Regions from separate parts of the Homo sapiens genome. Here region 1 is linked to region 2. Evidence: fine-mapped QTL for protein levels in blood plasma. A gene starts in region 2. The other region holds a variant in brackets. All regions are shown on one strand. Distances are from middle to middle. Region 1 overlaps IL12RB1 (interleukin 12 receptor subunit beta 1). Region 2 holds the start of IL12RB1 (interleukin 12 receptor subunit beta 1).

Region 1 (2,993 bases), 28 kb before region 2:
GCTGCCAGTAAACATTGCCTGTCTCCTACTTCTCGCACCCAAGGGACTGTGCATAGGGGTGGGTTTGCAGCCAACTCCAGGGGCCTCCAGGGCTCACACCTGCAATCCCAGCAGTTTGGGAGGCCGAGGCGGGTGGATCACTTGAGGTCTGGAGTTCAAGACGAGCCTGGCCAACATGGTGAAACCCTGTTTCTACTAAAAATACAAACACATTTTAGCTGGTCAGGGTGGCGGGCGCCTGTAATCCCAGCTACTTGGGAGGCTGAGGCAGGAGAATCGCTTGAACCCGGGAGGTTGCCGTGAGCCAAGATCGCGCCATTGCACTCCAGCAACAAGAGCCAAACTCCGTCTCAGAAAAAAGAAAGGAGGATAAACGCTCAAGGGAGGGCATGCCTGGTGGAGGGAACGGCTTGAGCAGAAGCTGGGATGTGGCAGATCCGGAGCGGGGCGGGGGGCATTTGCAGAACTCTGACCAGCCACCGTGTGGCTGGGGCACCGAGATCCAGGCCTCTGTTTCCCTATCTAGATGCATCGATGGGGAAAGGGAGGCCCCCAGACCAAAGGGGCGGGGCCTGGGCCTCTTGCCTCCTGGCCCTATTGGCTGCCAGGGGTCTCTCCCCGAGAGGTCTCATCCTTTTTTTGCCACAAAATTCAGTAGTTCTGGGCTTTTTAACTCCCCTCCTCTGTCTGAAACCGGAAAAGTCTGTTTAGCAAACGCGGTGGGAGGAGGCAGGGCGGGCCCGGCCGGGGAAACGCGCGCCGCTGTTGCCACCTGGTGGCCATGGGGAGAATCTGGACTACCCGCTAATCGCCAGGGCTGGGGTGGGATTTCAGGAGCCCCCCCCCACACCTCGGCTCAGACCGCAGTGGGGATCAGGGGGAGGCGGCTGCAGAACGCGAGGGAGGTGGGGCAGTGTGGGCAGAAAGAGGGAGGATTCAGGGTGTGTAAGGGGGGCAAGGGTCCTGCTGCGAGTTGGTGGGCGTGAGGAGGAAGGAGCGTGGGGGCAAACCACGGTTCCTGTTACCGGAGTGCCCGGCTGCTCCACTCCCCCTAGGCCGTCCCTTCCCCTGCTCAGTCCTAACTTAGTAGGGTTCCAAGCTCTCATCCGGCTCTGTCTCCCCCGGATTAGGTGCTCCTGGAGGAGACCTAGAGGAAGAGATTAATAAATATATGTGGAATGAATGAATGAATGAATGAATGAATTCCAAGGCTCGTGTTTTGAGATTTTGAGCAGGACATTCAAGCTTCAAACAGGAAAAAAATACCCAAGAGGAGGCTCATTTACGATGATTTTGAACAGCTGTGTAAGGTCATTATCACCACCCCCATTTTATAGGGGGGTGAGGGTGGGGTGGGGGGTGGGATGGGAGGACCGTCATTTTTCCCACAAAGTTTACAGCCCCCTTCCCTATATGCCTGGATCCTCCAAGCTACAAGACCCCGCAATGCTGCAGGGAGCCCTTGAGTCCAGACTCCCCATCCAGTGCTCCTGGGGGTGGATGCCCAGCCCAGGGTCCAGGGATCCATCTGAGCCCCCCTTGCCCCCATTCCCAGTCCATTCTACGCCAGAACAGGTAAATGGCAGGGTCTGCTCCTGCCCCACGGATGCCAGGCCCAGCAGGGTGCAGCAGCTTCCATTTCATGGCAGCATCTAGGGT[T/TC]CCCCCGCAGGATGGGTGGCAACAGGCACGGGGCAGAGAGGAGGCAGGTGCACTGGAGCCTGGAGGAGCTCTGGGTTATTTGGGTCCAAATGTGACTCCTGTGTGTGCTACGTAGCCTCGGGCGAGTCACTCACCCTCTCTGAGCCTCAACGATCACATCTGTAAAGTACAACAGTCATGGTTCCTTTCAGGGGGTGGTTGTAGGGATTTGGTAGGGAATCATGTGAGTGGATGGAATGGGCTGGGTATGCCATAAGTGCTTAATAACCAGCCGTTGTGATTGAGATAGTCGCTCTTCGTGTCTGTAAGACAAAGTGGATGTTTTCGTTTCTCCCTCAGGCCTCCAGGCCCTGATATCCCAGGAGCGATGGATGTCTAGCCCCCCCACCCCCCGGGCAGGGTTGCACCCCTGACCGTCTGGCCCACTGGGCCCCAGGACCTTGGCCTTGCACCTGTCTCCATCCTCCAAGGACAACTCTGTATCCAGGGCCAGCTCAGGGGCACCCTCAGGTAGCTCTGTCTTCTCGAGAGGCTCAGTCCTCTCGCCTTTGTCCCAGGACATCTCTACCACCAGGGCCTCCTGCAGGGATGCCTCTTCCTGGAAGTCCACTGGGTTGATCCACTGCCAAGTCTGCAGAGGGAGGGTAGGGCCACAGCTGTGAGCAGAGCTCTACTTCCCATCCACAGCAGGATGGAACGGACCAGGTCACTGCTGGTTAAATTCTCTAACATCCTGAGACCTGGACGGGTGCAGTGGCTCACACCTGTCATCCCAGCACTTTGGGAGGCTGAGGCGGGTGGATCACTTGAGGTCAGCAGTTTGAGACCAGCCTGGAGAACATGGCCAAACCCCATCTCTACTAAAAATACAAAAATTAGCTGAGCTTGGTTGCGCACGCCTGTAATCCCAGCTACTTGGGAGGCTGAAGCAGGAGAATCGTTTGAACCCGGGAATCAGAGGTTGCAGTGAGCCGAGATGGCGCCACTGCACTCCAGGCTGGGTGACAGAGCGAGACTCCATATATCCTGAGACCGATTTGAGGATGGAGTCTGCCGCACTGACTCCCATTCAGCCCCTCTTAGGAAGAGCACTCCCATCTGTCTTTGGGAAATTTCCCTCCCTCTTTTCACAGATGGTGTGGTTGACAGTGCAGTGACCCCACCTCAGCTCTAGCAATGGTCATGTGACCCTGGCCAGCCCACCCATCAGACCCTTCCCTACCCCTCTGGTTCTAGCCATAGGCTCAGGGAAGGGCATGTGACCCAAGCTGGACCAATCAGTGATGGCCCTGAGACTTTTGCCCCAGTTAATGGGGAAAATGGACACCCTGCTT
Region 2 (2,500 bases):
CAGCACCCCGCTGATCCCCAGTGTACAGAGAAGGAAAGTTTATTTATTATTATTATTATTGAGATAGAGTCTTGCTCTGCCACACAGGCTGGAATGCAGTGCTGCAATCTCGGCTCACTGCAACCTCTGCCTCCTGGGTTCAAGCGATCCTCCCACCTCAGCTCCTAAGTAGCTGGGAGTACAGGTGCCCATCATCAAGCCTGGCTAATTTTTGCATTTTTAGTAGAGATGGGGTTTCACCATGTTAGCCAGGCTGGTCTCGAACTCCTGACCTCAAGTGATCCACCCATCTTGGCCTCCCATAGTGCTGGATTTTCAGGAGTGAGTCACCGTGCAGGGCCTGAGATTATTAAAAGTATATGGGAAGGCTGGGCATGGTGGCTCATGCCTGTAATCTGAGCACTTTGGGAGGCCAAGGTGAGTGGATCATTTGAGCCCAGGAGTTCGAGACCAGCCTGGGCAACACAGCGAGACGCTGTCTCTGTAAAAAGTATACACCAAAAAAATTAACCAGGCATGGTAGTGTGCACCTGCAGTCCCAGCTACTCAAGGGGCTAAGGCAGGAGGATCACTTGAGCCCAGGTGGTCAAGGCTGCAATGAGTTATGATTAGGCCACTGCACTCCAGCCTGGGACACAGAGTGAGACCCTACCTCAGTAAATAAATAAATAAATAAATAAATAAATAAATAAATAAATAAATAAGTAAAGTATACGGAAGGATGTGCATAGGTTATATGCAAATACTTTACCATTTTATATCAGGAACTTGAGCATCTTTGGATTTTGGTATCTGCAGAGGGTCCTGGAACCATTGCCCCGTAAATATGGAAATGACTGTATACATTATATTATGTATGTCTATCTATTGTAAACTACATACATAAGATACTATACTATGTATACCTATTAGATACATACTTGCTTTTTATTCCTTCCTTAGTTTTTTTTCTCATTGAACTCCGGGAGGTGGAAAAAATTTAGTGCATTTCACAGAAGAGAAAATCTAGACCAGAGGAAAGATGTCTAAGTTCGATCCCAGAAGCCATGACTGCCCATCTCCCATTTGACAGCAGGAAAGACTGAGGCACAGAGAGATGAAACCAACCCACACAGCAGGCCCACAGCTCTCCACACATACACGTGCCTCCACCCAGCAAGAGGAGCCGCCATGCCAGGGTCAGGGGACTCACCGCCCTGCCTGGACAGCAGGAAGAGGAAGAGGAGGGGGACCACCCAGGTCACCAGCGGCTCCATCGGATCCACGTAGAGCCCCACAGCCCCAGGGGAGCCTCTCTGCCACCTGCGAGGTTCAGCCACCCCGTCCCCACTCCGGAACACATTGAAGCTGAGCAAGGAGAAAAGACTGAAAAAAAAGAAAAAAGAAAAAAAGTAAAGTGTCACAGCCCATCCCTAAGGCAAGTCAAAGTGAAAGAGAAACCCAGGAAGTCAGCTCCGTGGTGGTGGTGATGGTGGCGGCCACAGACTCTGGAGCAAGTCTGACTTTGGAGCAAGTCAGGGTTCTAGGGGGTTCTGCCCTGCTGGCCCCAGACCTGAACTGAACACCCAGATGCCAGCCCCATGGGCCCATGGGCCACCTGTGGTTCCATGCACTTGGCCAGGTCTCTGGCCCTCTCTAGCCAATTTTTTTTTTTTTTTTTGAGATGGAGCCCTGCTCTGTCGCCCGGGCTGGAGTGTGGTGGCATGATCTCCACTCACTGCAACTTCTGCCTCCCGGGTTCAAGCAATTCTCCTGCCTCAGCCTCCCGAGTAGCTGGAATTACAGGCAACTGCCACAACATCGAGCTAATTTTTGTATTTTTAGTAGAGACAGGGTTTCACCATGCTGGCCAGGCTGGTCTCGAACTCCTAACCCTAAGTGATCCACCCACCTCAGCCTCCCAAAGTGCTGGGATGACAGGCGTGAGCTACCGTGCCTGGCTGCCAAATTCTTTTTTTCTTCTTTTGAGATAGGGTCTTGATCTGTGGCCCAGCTGTAGTGCAGTGGTGCAATCACGGCTCACTGCAACATCAACCTCCCCAGGCTCAGGCCATCCTCCTACCTCAGCCTCCCCAGGAACTGGGACTACAGGCATGCACCACCACGCCCAGCTAATTTTTGCATTTTTTTTTTTTTAAGAGAGGGGGTTTTGCCATGTTGCCCAGGCTGGTCTCAAACTCCCGGGTTCAAATGATCCGTCCGCCTTGGCCTACCAAAATTCTGGGATCACAGGCGTGAGCCACCGCACCGGGCCATCTCGCCAGCTTCTGAATCTGAGACTCAAGAGCTGAAGGAGGGCAGTGTTCTTGGATGGCCTAATTTCATCCTTCCAACAAATTGTTACAAAGAGCTTGCAGCATGCTGGCCCTCCACAATGCCCACCTCCCCACATGCCAAGCTCCAGCCTTGTGCACCTGGGCTCACCCCTCTAATCCCAGCACTTTGAGAGGTCGAGGTGGGAGGATCACTTGACCCCAGGAGTTTGGGTCTACCTAAACAA

Evidence for each region. PIP is the posterior inclusion probability: the model's chance that the variant is causal. Protein levels are from antibody-based Olink assays in UK Biobank. Linkage for the fine-mapping came from a reference panel and not from the study's own genotypes, which makes the PIPs less certain.
Region 1: its variant is fine-mapped to the plasma level of the IL12RB1 protein (UK Biobank, PIP above 0.99).

Annotation. Positions count from the first base shown.
Region 1 is chr19:18,057,796-18,060,788 of GRCh38, forward strand. IL12RB1 (interleukin 12 receptor subunit beta 1) reads right to left here. Exons shown (of 17, transcript NM_005535.3): 16 at 2,099-2,290; 17 at 1,200-1,818. The coding sequence ends at 1,813. Among named protein-coding and RNA genes, the nearest start is that of IL12RB1, 28 kb to the right of the region's middle. The variant T/TC (reference allele first, on the strand shown) is at 1,660.
Region 2 is chr19:18,085,568-18,088,067 of GRCh38, forward strand. It overlaps IL12RB1 (interleukin 12 receptor subunit beta 1), which reads right to left and starts at 1,367. Exons shown (of 17, transcript NM_005535.3): 1 at 1,193-1,367. The coding sequence starts at 1,256. RefSeq lists enhancers at 1,279-1,628, 1,639-1,698.